Linked DNA regions of Homo sapiens: regions 1 and 3 are each linked to region 2. Evidence: fine-mapped expression QTL. A gene starts in region 2. Each other region holds a variant in brackets. All regions are shown on one strand. Distances are between the middles of the regions.

What was found. PIP is the estimated chance that this variant, and not a neighbour inherited with it, causes the effect. A credible set is the group of variants that fine-mapping cannot tell apart.
Region 1: its variant is the best candidate, but not a certain one, in a credible set for the expression of GSK3B in whole blood (INTERVAL, PIP 0.72).
Region 3: its variant is the best candidate, but not a certain one, in a credible set for the expression of GSK3B in whole blood (INTERVAL, PIP 0.60).

What each region holds. Positions count from the first base shown.
Region 1 is chr3:120,156,366-120,160,604 of GRCh38, forward strand. The region is part of intron 1 of LOC105374065 (a long non-coding RNA gene); the gene reads left to right. Among named protein-coding and RNA genes, the nearest start is that of GSK3B-DT, 63 kb to the left of the region's middle. The variant G/A (reference allele first, on the strand shown) is at 2,659.
Region 2 is chr3:120,092,807-120,097,045 of GRCh38, forward strand. GSK3B (glycogen synthase kinase 3 beta) reads right to left here and starts at 1,641. Exons shown (of 11, transcript NM_001146156.2): 1 at 541-1,641. The coding sequence starts at 628. GSK3B-DT (GSK3B divergent transcript) reads left to right here and starts at 2,298. Exons shown (of 3, transcript NR_186629.1): 1 at 2,298-2,972. RefSeq lists enhancers at 1,820-2,229, 1,856-2,150, 2,430-2,749.
Region 3 is chr3:120,037,313-120,041,551 of GRCh38, forward strand. All of the region lies in intron 1 of GSK3B (glycogen synthase kinase 3 beta), which reads right to left. It also overlaps the pseudogene RFKP3. Among named protein-coding and RNA genes, the nearest start is that of MIR6529, 45 kb to the right of the region's middle. The variant A/G (reference allele first, on the strand shown) is at 1,890.

The sequences.
Region 1 (4,239 bases), 64 kb after region 2:
CAAATAGAGGGGAGACAATGTAAAAAGACAGGGAAGAGGCCAGGCGCGGTGGCTCATGCCTGTAATCCCAGCACTTTGGGAGGCTGAGGCAGGTGGATCACGAGGTCAGGAGATCGAGACCATCCTGGCTAACATGGTGAAACCCCGTCTCTACTAAAAATACAAAAAATTAGCCAGGTGTGGTGGCGGGTGCCTGTAGTCCCAGCTACTTGGGAGGCTGAGGCAGGAGAATGGCATGAACCCGGGAGGTGGAGCTTGCAGTGAGCTGAGATTGCACCACTGCACTCCAGCCTGGGCGACAGAGCGAGACTCCATCTCAAAAAAAAAAAAAAGACAGGGAAGAGATGGACATCTACAAGCCAAGAAGAGAGATCTGGAACAAATACTTCCCTCAATCCTTAGAAGGAAGCAACACTGCTGACAGTTTGATATCAGAATTCTAGCCTCCTGAACTGTAAGACAGCAAATTTCTGTTGTTTAAACCACCCAGTCTGTGGTATTTTGTTATGACAGCCCTCACAAACTAATTTAAACATTTAGTGGCTCCCTCTAGCTCTATACATCTGGTGGGAAAAATCCTGGGTGGGCATAACTTAAATATTTGTGTTGTTTGCATTTACCAGAAATTTGGTAAGTTCATACATTCATTTATTTATTCATCCATTGCCCATCTCCTTATGCTGATTTATTAATTTTTAAATTACACATACCACTCTCTGGAAACTATTTTATCTTCTACTTACTTGTTCATTGTTTCACCACAAGCTTCATGAGAGATGCTGAATAAGAATTTATCCTTCCTTGTTTCCTTCCCTCTCTTCCTCCCGTCAATATTTAAGCACCTCTTATGTCTATTGTGTGCACAGCATTCCATGCTTGTCACTGTTAAAGCATAAAGAGGTACAAGGAATGTTTCTTGTCCCCAAGGAGTCTGTGATTTCTGGGAGGAGACAAAGCATGACCATGTGAGTGGCTGTATTCCACCACCAGGTAGTGGGTGAGTATGTGCTGGCCAGGTGCTGGATCATAACTGTTGCCAAGAGGGAAGGTGCAGGGGACTGAGGGTGTGCAGGAAAAGGCTCCCGGAGAGGAGGGGCCCGCACTTCAGATAAAAGAGGGGAACAGGAAGGAGTATAGTGGAGCAGAATGTTAGTAATCCATTGCCTTCCTTGATGCCTGGGGGCTATGTTTAGGGAGGAGTGGGGTTGCCTCAGGCCAGGGTTGATCAAGGCTTGGGGATAGGGTGATGCACAGAACCCAGAATCTTCATTCTGGCATCCCAGGAGGTCAGAAACAAAGCTCAGAGGCAAAAACTCTGGCCACACATTAAAATCATCTTGGGAACTTAAAAAAGGCTAATGTTAAAACCCTACCTTGACCGGGTACATCCCGGGATCTGCAGGCAGGACCTGAGAGAGAAGAAATCCTTTTAGGATGTGGATTGACAGCAGTGGCTCCTGACCGCAAGGCCCAGGCCACCCTGGCCCAGTCATGGGACACCCGCAGTTCTGGAGTGATGAGGGTAACTGCTGGAAATAAGGCACCAGGCTGCATTCCATTGGTATGGCCTCCTTGTCCTGAGCGTAAAAGTGCCTACTTGTGACATCAGAAGAATGTGTTGACAGATCTGTATCCCACTTCCAATTTTTACTATATTTTATGGTGGGAGCAGCAGCAACAGCAGCAGGATTAATTAAGCTGGTTTCCCTCTTTTTTTGGTCCCCATCAGCTTTCTGCAGCTGTTCATGGATAGAAACCATCCAGAAAGGTGTTTTGTTATTTTTGTTTTTTGAGGATATTGGAGACATTGGGTCCAGGGTTTTAGGGATTGTTATGGTTTGAATGTGACCGCCCCAAAATTCAGGTGATAGTATTAAGAGGTGATTTAGGTCACCTAAATTTAGGTGATTTAGGCCTTTAAGAGGTGATTAGGTCATGAGGGCTTCTCCCAGCTGAATGGGACTAAGACCCTTACAAAAGAGGCTTCATATAGCATTTGTCTGATTGACGCTTCTGCCTTCCACCATGTGAAGACTCGATGTTCCTCCTCTCTGGAGGACGCAGCCCTCACCAGGCAACTGAACCAGCCAGCGCCTTGATCTTGGAGTTCCCAGCCTCTGGAACTGTGAGAAATACATTTCTGTTCTTTGTAAATTTCCCAGTCTGTGGTATTGTGTTATAGCAGCAGAAAATGGGCTGAGACAGGAACCTTCCTCCTCAGGTCTTGGTGGCTCAATTTCTTCTAGCTGTATATGTAAGCTCCTATCACAGTGCCTGGCACATAGTGGGCCCTCAGCAAATGTTTGTTTCCTTCATTTCCAATGAGACAGCAGAGATTCTCAGAAATGTTAAATTTCAAATATGTTCTGACAGAAAATTGCTACCAAATTACTTTTTGTCTGTTCAGGACACTCTTGGTAAAAACAGAAAGATGGGAGCATAGAGAGTTGGCCCATCTTCAAAATAAACCTAGAAATGTTGGTTGACACCTAGGTGTCAGGCACTGCAGAGGCTAGCATGAAAATGCAGTGATAGATTATACAGGGCACTTGCCCTCCAGTATCTGATAATCTATTTGAACAGGTAAGATGTGAGCATGTGAAACCTTAACAATAAAGGATTTATAGAACAGCCCAAGACAACAGTAGAATTGCTGTC[G/A]GGGGCATATCAGGAGTATGCAATTTATTGCCTAATAAATCTGAGGACAGCTGGAACTGGTCAGAAAGAGGAAAAGCTACTTCAGGTTGGGGTAGTTAGAATGAAGGAGAAAGCAGCTGGTGTGAACAAAAGTGTTGAGCCTGATCTGGGCCTAGGTATGCCCCAGATACAGACAGCAAACCCAGCTGGCAGGAACAAGGAGAGTTTTAGGTAAGTTTAGTGGGAGGGTGAGCTGTGCCTCACTGGGGTCCCCCTTAAGACAGTTCTGGTGAGACCAGTCTTCCTCCCTTGATTAATTCTTCTTTGACAAGCATTTGCTGGGCACTGATCATGTGCCAGGCACAGTGCTAGGTGTGGGGGATTCCAAGATAATTATAACAAGTTCTAGGCTCAAAGAGCTCACAGTCTAGTGGGGAAAATGAGATTTCAAGCCCCAAACCAAGGTGAGATTTCATCCTGCAGGAAGTAGGGAGGAATGAAGATTTTTCTAGCAAAGTGGGTTTGAATTGAAAAGGGATTGTGGGCCGGGCTCAGTGGCTCACGCCTGTATTCCCAGCACTTTGGGAGGCCAAGGCGGGTGGATCACCTGAGTTAAGGAGTTCAAGACCAGTCTGGCCAACATGGCGAAACCCCATCTCTACTAAAAATACAAAAATTAGCCGGGCGTGGTGGTGGGCACCTGTAATCCCAGCTACTCAGGAGGCTGAGGCAGGAGAATCACTTGAACCTAAGAGGCGGAGGTTGCAGTGAGCCAAGATTGCACCACTGCACTCCAGCCTAGGTGACAGAGTGAGACTCCATCTCCAAAATAAAAAATAAAAAAGAAAAAGAAAAAGAAAAAAAAGAGATATTGTGGCTCTTCCCTCAGCTCAGTAGAAGATCTGAGAGTAGCACTGTTTCCATTTGCCACAGGGTCTTCTGGGTCTCTTGCGCAGAATCATCTTTTTGTGCCACTTACAAAGCACAATCCTTGAGAAAAGTTTTTCAGTTTGCAGGACTGACCGTGATCTTTTTAAACAGGGAGACTGCTTGCTGTCAGTATCACCTGTATTTTGCATTGAGCTTTCTGAAACTGAGGAGGACCAGGTAGCTCTAGGGAGCTCCCTTCCAGCCTCCAGGATGCTGATGCAATGACTGAGCAATGGAGAGTTTTGCAATATGCTTACAGAACCAGACCAGCTTGCTTTTCCTAAGGAAACCTTGGTGTCCTAAGAAAACCTCAGGCTGGGTCCCTGCCCTGCCGGGTTGAAATTCCTTCTGTCTTCTGGTAGCATGCCTGTAGCACATGCTCTGTAACCAGCTTTAGGGAGTCCACAAAAGGCTTTGGAATGAAGTCAAATTTCAGTGCAAACTCAGTCTCTGCCTCTAACCAGTTGTGTGATTTTTGGCAAGTGACCTAACCTCTCCCAGTTAAAGTTTCCTCATCTGTGAAACAGAGTCAATAACTACTTTGCTAGGTGGTTATAAATATTAAATAAGATGAGTATTAAGTGGTGCATAGCAGATTATCTTACATATATTTTCTTCTATTACAAAGTGCATAATATTTTTCTGTTTTTGTTTTTTTGAGACAGAGTCTTG
Region 2 (4,239 bases):
CACAGATTAAGAACAAATATTATGTGTAGTCATACAAACAAGAAAAAAATGTTGGGAGGGTGGGACATTTAACGTCTCTATTAAGTATATCAAACTATGATAACCCCTGAGACCTAAAATATTCTCTCATTCCAAATTCCAAAAATTCTGCAAATGTGCATAATGGTTTAGTAATCAAATCTTGTCCTTCTCTTTATTCTAAAGGATGGGCAAGTAAACACTGTCATCACTACTTTAACGTGGAAACACTCGAGCACTTGATGAAACTGACTACCAACAGCAAGAAAAGTACAAGAAAGCAGTTTGAAATCGAATCATCCAAATAAATATCATATTATCTCAATTCAAGGTTAATGAGACCGGGGGAGGGGGTATGGGAGGAGTAAAAAGGGAGCTGCTTCATCCTTGACTGAAGATAGGTTTTGCCCTTTTCCATTGCCTGTTTATCAGGAGGTCTAATAATTTCAGATCCTGGTATTTCGAGGTTTCTTATTTTAAGGGCGAGGTGGAAAAGGGGTGTAAAATAAAACCAATACTCACTGCTAACTTTCATGCTGCCAAAAGCTGAAGGCTGCTGCACCGGCTTGCAGCTCTCCGCAAAGGAGGTGGTTCTGGGCCGCCCTGACATGATCACTCTCTTCGCGAATCACCTTTTCCTTCCTTCCTCCTTTTCTTCCTTTTGTCTTTATGTTGGGGTGTTAGGTTAACGATAAATGCAGCATTAAGTTCTCCCACAGAAGAAAAAGAAAAAGACTTCGTCCTCTTGGCTTTTCACTCCTTTTGTATACTATAAAAAACAAAACAAGCGATATATTTCTCCTTCAAGACAGATCGGCACGGATATTTAACATATAGATGATTTAGGACTTGGGAAAAAATACAATTCTTTCCCCTCCCTTTCCTGGGAGGAGAGAAAAGAGAGGGCAAATCCTAAAAAAATATGTATCACGTGAAACGGGGGCAAATACTTGATTGAAAATGAGTACTTCGAATATTATATTTTCCTCGGGGATTTTTTTTCCGAGTCAATGAAGAAGGGAAGCGGCGGAAGGATCACGAGTCTCACGCTTGAAGAGAAAGGGGGATGGGTAGGAGGGAGGGAGAGGGAGGGAGGGGGTGGCTCGGAGATGCGACGGGAAACGCTGCAGCTCCGGCAAGCCGCGGGATCCGGCGGGCTGACGGCAGGGGCCCGGCGAACTAGAGGGCGGCGGAGTCGCGAGTCAGTCAGAGGCGGGCGGTGGCGGTGGCGGCGGCTCCTCTCCTCATTGCGCCAGGAGCAGCTGCAGGCGGCGGCTGGATCCAGCGGCCATGGCGGTGGCGGAGGCAGCTCCCTTCAGACCCCAGGCAGCGGCTCCTCGACTGTTCCCCATTCGCCGGGGACATGGGAACCCGGCAACCGCTTCCGTCCCTCGGGGCCCCCTCCCCCGTCCGCGGCAACAGCTCGGCCGCCCTCCCGCCCCTCGGCTCTGCTCGGTGCCCGCTCAGGAAGTGTCCGCGCTTTGCCCCAGCCCAGAGCCCTGTCAGCGGCTGCGGGGCCGGCTCCTCCTCGCTTCCTTCCTTCCTTTGTCACTTGGCCCGGGCGGCGGCGGCGGCGGCGGCGGCACAAGCCCGCATTCGCCCGGGTCAGGAGCTGCTCTGTGTGAGGAGCGCTGTCTGCGCAGCCGCCTTGCACTTCCCCACTCCTCCTCCCCCCTCCTACTCGTCCTCCACCTCCTTCCTCCCCCACCCAGCCTTACACCGCCCAGCGCCCCGCCGCCCGCGTAACAGGCGTCTGGGAATCGCCGGCCGAGCCCCACGCTCGCCCGCTTCGGCTGGGAGCCGAAGCCCGAACGGAGCCAATCACGGACGTCGTTTGTTTGCGGCTCCTCCCGGAAAAAGCCGATCAGCCTGAGAAACCAATTAGAAAGTGACGCTGGGAAGCCACGCCCAAAGAGCGGAAAATGCCGAAGGTAGCCGAACGGAAAGGGTGAATTCGCCTTGTTCGGTGGCTGGCTGGAGGAGACATTCGACAATGGCAACAGTGGCCAATCAGAGTCGCCGGCCCTTACGAAGAGGCTTGAAGAGTTGAGGACGGTGAAACCCAGAGACGCTGGTGAAACTGCACGGCTGGGCGCCGCCGCCGCTTTGTGATTGGCTGGAAAACTCCGCTGGGAGCGTACCTCCTTCGGTGATTGGTGAAGAGAAGGGGGCTTCCGAGGACAGTCTGGCCAGTCAGGACTTCCCCTCCCTCTCCAAGGTGGGGAGAAGAAAGCGAAGGGAGGGCGTCTATAAAGCGCTGTCTCATTGGCCTGAAGCTTAGGCGCTGGAGTTGGGGCAAAAGGGAGAGGGAGGGAGCCCGAAACTCGCGGCGGCGGCCAATCGGCTCTCACTGCCGTCCAATCGCAAGACCTAGCTGCAGTGTGATTGGCCTTCGGCCCCGGTCCCAGGAGCGGGGAGATGCCTGACTCGGGTCGTGGCTGACGACCCGACGGTTCGCCTGCGGCCGCCTCCAACAACGGTGGAAACCGCACACAGGGACCGCGGGCCCTCGGTGCAGCAAATCGGAAAGTGCTGCGGTCGGCGGCCCTGGGCTCTGAGCGCTCAAGCGAGCAGAGGGGTGGAGGGGCTCTCCCCACCCACAGGAGGCTCTCGGCGGGGCGCAGCCAATTCTGCGCGCCCAAGGCTCCCCTCTGCCGTGGATCGCGTGTGCCGAGTGTTGGCCTCTTCCCCGAAAGGGCCAGACGGACCAAGGGGGCCTTCCCAGCCGGCTGCAAGCTCTCAGACGCTAAAATGGGAACAAAGCTTCCAGAAAGGCAGCGCCTTTGGGCGGCCGCGCCCCGCCCAGCCGCGGGGGCCATTGATACAGAGGCTTGCTGCGCTTGGTGTGCGCGGCCCGGCCGGGCCTCTGGAAACGCCCATGAGAAATGAGCTCATGCTGGATGCGCGCGCTCCTTGGGCGCAACTGCCCAGCGCAAAACGGGCCCCGAAAGCAGGTGAGGGGAAATGCCGTCAGGCCGGATATCCTGAAGCCTCCGAGGAAATGGGGGGGTCAGAGGAGCCCGTGGTAGCTTTGGATCTTTTGGAACTAGGGTGATCTATAAAAGTGCAGCTTGAGAAGATTTCATACATAAGACCAGCGTCCATTGTTCTACCATAGAACCAGTTCCTTTGGTCTGCTTTAGAACAGTGAGGTATGGCTACGTCAAGATAACAGAGAAAGTAGAACAGACAGTTGCCATCCTGATTGTAATCCAGTGGTGCCTGTAATTTCTACCTGCAGAGTCATCTCTTTCTGTTAAGATGCTGTCTCCAGAAAGCACATGTTAAAGGACCTATATTTGATCAGATTACCTGGCTCTTGCTTTGAAACACTGATGAAGGACTTGGGACAGAACAAAGTAAGCTTTGATGGAAGACAGGAAAGGTCTAGATAGTGTTTGCAGATTCAAATGGCTACAGAGGCCAGACAAGTAAAGCAAATGAGTGAGACTGGCCTTGTGTAAGACAATGGGGAATGATAGGGAAAATGGCAAATTGGAATATCCATGCCATAACTAAAAGGAACAGCTGCTCAACTCTAGCAGATTGTTGCCCTCAGGAATGTGGGTCCAGTGTTCTCAGATGTTCAATTTTTTTCCTCCCAAAAGAAACCCCAAAATTGGATTTTTGTGTGAAATCTCTGCATTTTTAAATGTTGGTAACCAAATTTTCAAACCCTGCAGGCCAACCTAAAAACATCCCTTGGCCAATGAGGCATTGGAAAAAGTGTTAATAATTGTTAGGGGCCCGATAGCAGTAGGAGGGTGAAAACAAAATGGTTTGGGACCTTAAATAATTGAAATGTATCTTTATTTATTTATTTATTTTTGAGACGGAGTTTCACTCTTGTTGCCCAGGCTGGAGTGCAGTGGCGCGATCTCGGCTCACCGCAACCTCCGCCTCCCCGATTCAAGTGATTCTCCTGCCTCAGCCTCCCAAGTAGTTGGGATCACAGGCATGTGCCACCATGCCAGCTACTTTTGTATTTTTAGTAGAGACGGGGTTTCTTCATGTTGGTCAGGCTGGTCTCGAACTCCCGACCTCAGGTGATCTGCCTGCCTCAGCCTCACAGAGTGTCAGGATTACAGGCGTAAGCCACCACACCGGGCCGGTTGAAATTTATCTTTAAAATAGTGCACCTTTAATCCTTTTTTTATTTCTGTGTGTATCTTATAATGTGCATATCATGTTAGCTCAAGATCAAGAGTTTATGGACAAGCC
Region 3 (4,239 bases), 55 kb before region 2:
AAATAAAGCAATAATTTAAAAGTAATAGCTTATCCAATTATCCAAATTGCTTAACTTCTTAAGCAATTAAGAAACATGAGCTTCTCCATCCAGAAATGGTGACAGACTGAAAAACTGAAGACACATTATCCCGAAGAACTTGTATTCTTATTGGAGAGATAACTCAAAATCTAAAATAAGAAACAATCCTAAATATATTAAGCAAGCCGGTAGTGTGTAATACGTCATATGCAAAGGAAGGAAATATGTTTTATAAAGTGAACTCCAGACTGGGTGACAGGGAGAGACCCTATTTCAAAAAAAGAAGTAAATAAAAAATAAAAATAAAGCACTACAGCTCTTTTTTTTTTTACCATCTTACACATCAAACCTTTAGTCTTGAGGTATTTAATGGTATTTAGTGGTTTCAGAAAATACTGAGCATATAAGCATGCATTTAGAACTCCATTTTTTACATTTTATGCTCTTTATGATGGTTATTCTAGGTCAGTCATTAAACTCCCTTATGTAAATCTGCTTCTGCCAGATGACATCAATAACTACACAAACAGTCCATAGGTTAACACTATTATATTTTCCTGTAATACACTATAGAGAATAAAATAAGAGGAACTGATGAATAAAAAATATATAAAACATCTAAAGAAGTCTTTATTACTAATAATCTTCCATAGCTATAACATATGCAAGATACTGTACTAAACAATTTATATTAAATATTGTTCATTTAACCTAAAAATACATTTACATACAAGGAAACTGAGGCACAGTTCAGTAACTTGTCCAATGTCACAGCAAGTAAATAGCAAATTCGGAATTTATCCCAGAGCCCAGGCGCTTACTCAACATGTTACTTCCTCCTAAGCTATTTTTAAAGGCATAATATGAAGTCAAATTATTAATTACAACAATCTCAGGTTTCTTCTTCAATTTTAGTTATCATAATTCACCCTCAAAACTGTGCCACTGAGGCCAGGCATGGTGGTTCATGCCTGTAATCCCAGTGCTTTGGGAGGCCAAGGTGGGTGTGCTCCTTGAACCCAAGCGTTCAAGACCAACCTGGGCAACATGGTGAAACCCTGGTCCACACCTATGATACCAACTACGCGGGAGGCTGAGATGGCAGCACTGATTGAGCCTGGGAGGTTGAGGCTACAGTCAGCTGTGATCAAGCCACTGCACTCCAGCCAAGGCAAGAGTGAGACTCTGTCTCAAAAAAACATGTGCATCATTGAAAGAGGACATCAAAAAGGGATGGCAGTCTTTTTCTGAAAAATGGTACTAGAATAAGCGACCATCTACATGCAAATAAACACACATCAACTTACACAAAAATTAACTCAAAATGCACAAAAATTCACAAAAATTAAAAAATTAGCTCAAACTGCATCATAGACCTAAAGTAAAATGCAAAGCTATAAAACTTCTAAAAGATAACAGGAAAAATCCAAGTAACCTTTGGTTTGACGAGGACTTTTTACATACAACACCAAAAGCACAGTCCATAAAAAAAAAAAAAATGGAAAAGTGGGCTTCGTTAAAATTAAAAACTTCTGCTCTTTGAAAGAAAGACACTATGAAACAGGATGAAAAGACAAGACATAGACTGGGAGAAAATATTTGCAATACACATATCTGATAAAGGGCTAGTATCCAAAATATACAAAGAACTCTTAAAACTCAATAATAAAACAAATGAATTAAAAAGTGTACAAAAAATCTGAACTGATACCTCACAAAAGAAGATATACAGGTAGCAAATAAGCATATGAAAAGATGCTCAACATCATATGTCATTAGGGAATTGTAAATTAAAACAATGCCATACCATTATACATCCACTGGAACAGAATGGCTAAAATCCCAAACACTGACAACACCAAAAGCTG[A/G]TGAAAATGTGAGGCAACAGGAACTCTCACTCACTGTTTGCAGAAATGTAAAATAGTACAGCCATTCTGGAAGACACATCAGCAGTTTCCTGCAAAGCTAAATGTAGTCTTACCACACAATCCCAGCAATCACACTCATAGATATTTACACAAGTGAGTTGAAAACTTATGTCTGTAAGATACAATGAATTTTTCTGAATTTCTCTTCAAAGGTTCAGGTTGTTAACTTCCTCGTTTTTTGTTCTCAAACTCAACTTTCTTGTTTTCCATGCCTCCTTGCCTCTAGTTACTGTAAAAAAAAAACCAATCTTCCTGTCAGCTCTTATCAATAGCTTACAACTGTTCCCTTGGTTAAACACTCTGCACCCATTCCACCCATTAGAAACCACACATCACCCTTCGAAACCACACATCCCATCACTGTAACTCACCTTCCCCTTTTCTTATTTGGAAAAAATATTCACAAGTAGCCAATCGGGTCTGCTTAGATTGTGTAGTCCGAACCCAGCCCATGCGGGAGTGACACAGAGGTAGGGACTATGCATTAGAGATAAAAACCCCTTCTCTCCTGTGCTCCCTGTGCTTTTGCCATTGCTCCATCTGCAAGATACACCCTTCTGCAGAAGTAAATTGCCTTGCTGAGAAAACTTTTGGCACTGAGCATTTATCTCCAACAAATCTGCGGGCTCATCCGGGATTCCCATTCTCCTCTGGGAAAGGGTCTTGGTCCTCTCCCGTGAAGAGGTGCGCCCCACTGCCTCGTTGCAGCAGCCTCAGGGATAAAGGAATTGAGGCCCACCCAGTGTGACAAATAAACCCAGACTCTCAGCAACATGGGAAAGAAACAGGCCGGCAGCTCGGGGAAAGGAGGCTCACATACCACAGCGACTAGGTAACTCTGTGCACAGACCAAAGTCAGAAGGTCGCAGGGGCGACAAAGTATTTCCTTGGTGGTTGGGATTCTGGAGGTTAAAAGTGTGTAAATGATCACAAGCACTACTGCTTGCAGTGCTGCTTGTGTGAATGGTACTAAGCACTACTGCTGTGCAGAGTGAGTGGGTCCTATCGGCAGTTCCGTGGTCACCTCATACAGCTTAGGGCGGCCCTTTGGGGATCCTGTCAGGAGTTTATACTGACCCGCCATCAATGCTAAGAGGGACCTGAAATATTCCCGCGAGGGAAGTGGCCAGAGCAGATGCAGCGAAAAAAGGGTGCAAGAAACCTCCAGTAGGTGGGGCTAAAGGATAGGCAAGAAATCTCTAACACAAGGTATTGAGCCTTAACAAGCTCCCCAAGGAAGAATAGGCAAGAAATCACTGATACAAAGGATTGAGCCTTAACAAGCCCCCAGAGAAGAATAGGCAAGAAGTCTTTAGTACAAGGGATTCAGCCTAACTAGGACCCAACATGGGAAATACGCCAAGCAAGACAAGAAGTAAAAAGGATAAAAACAGCAACAAAGATAGTCCCCCCAATCTCTTGTTAAAAGACCTAGCCCCCTAGGTCTCATGTTAAAATATTGGAAAGATAATAAAAGGTTAGAAAAGCCAGTTCCCATGCCTAAAGACCATCACATGGGATCCCCTACACTGTCTTCCCCTGCTCAGTGACCCCAACCCTTTCCTCTCAGGCAGCTGTTGCCATCCTAGATCCTGCTTCATATCCTTCCCCTACTCATGTTACTCCTCCTCCTTACAATTCTCACTCTTGGGAATCAACACCCTATGAACCTATTCCCTCCCAGCCTAAGTATCCCTCCTTAAAGGGACTCCATGCACCTAAGTCGCCAGGCAGCTTTTGTAGGGTGGGCAGCATCAAGGATCTGCCACACTGTGTCACTGGCATCGTCCGGGCCCTGGTGTGCCTCCACAGTAGGCAGAGCCCACGCTCCTGCCCCCTTGCTGGTCCAGGGTTCAGGCACCATGTAAAGGGTGGCTCTGCAAAACATGCAGACCAGGCCACGGGCCAAACCCCGAACAGGCTACATTATGGGACATCTGCCTTACTTCTGCTGGGGCCAAGTGGTGCAGGGATTTGGCTGCGGCTCCAAGCAGCTGGGCATCCCTGCAGCTAATTTTCCTGAGTAAGTGGTAGATAACCTTCCAGCTGATATATCCACCGGCATTTATTGTAGTTGGGCCAGTGCTGGAAGTAGAGATGTCCATAAGATGGTGGTGAGCACAGGATGGAACCCATACTACAAGAATACAAAGAAGCCCATGGAAACACATATCATGCATACCTTCAAAAAAGACTTCTATAAGGAAATCCTCAATGTGATCATTGTTGGCTACCCCAGACCAGAAAAGAACTTTGATTCTTTAGAGTCACTTATATTAAAATATACCAC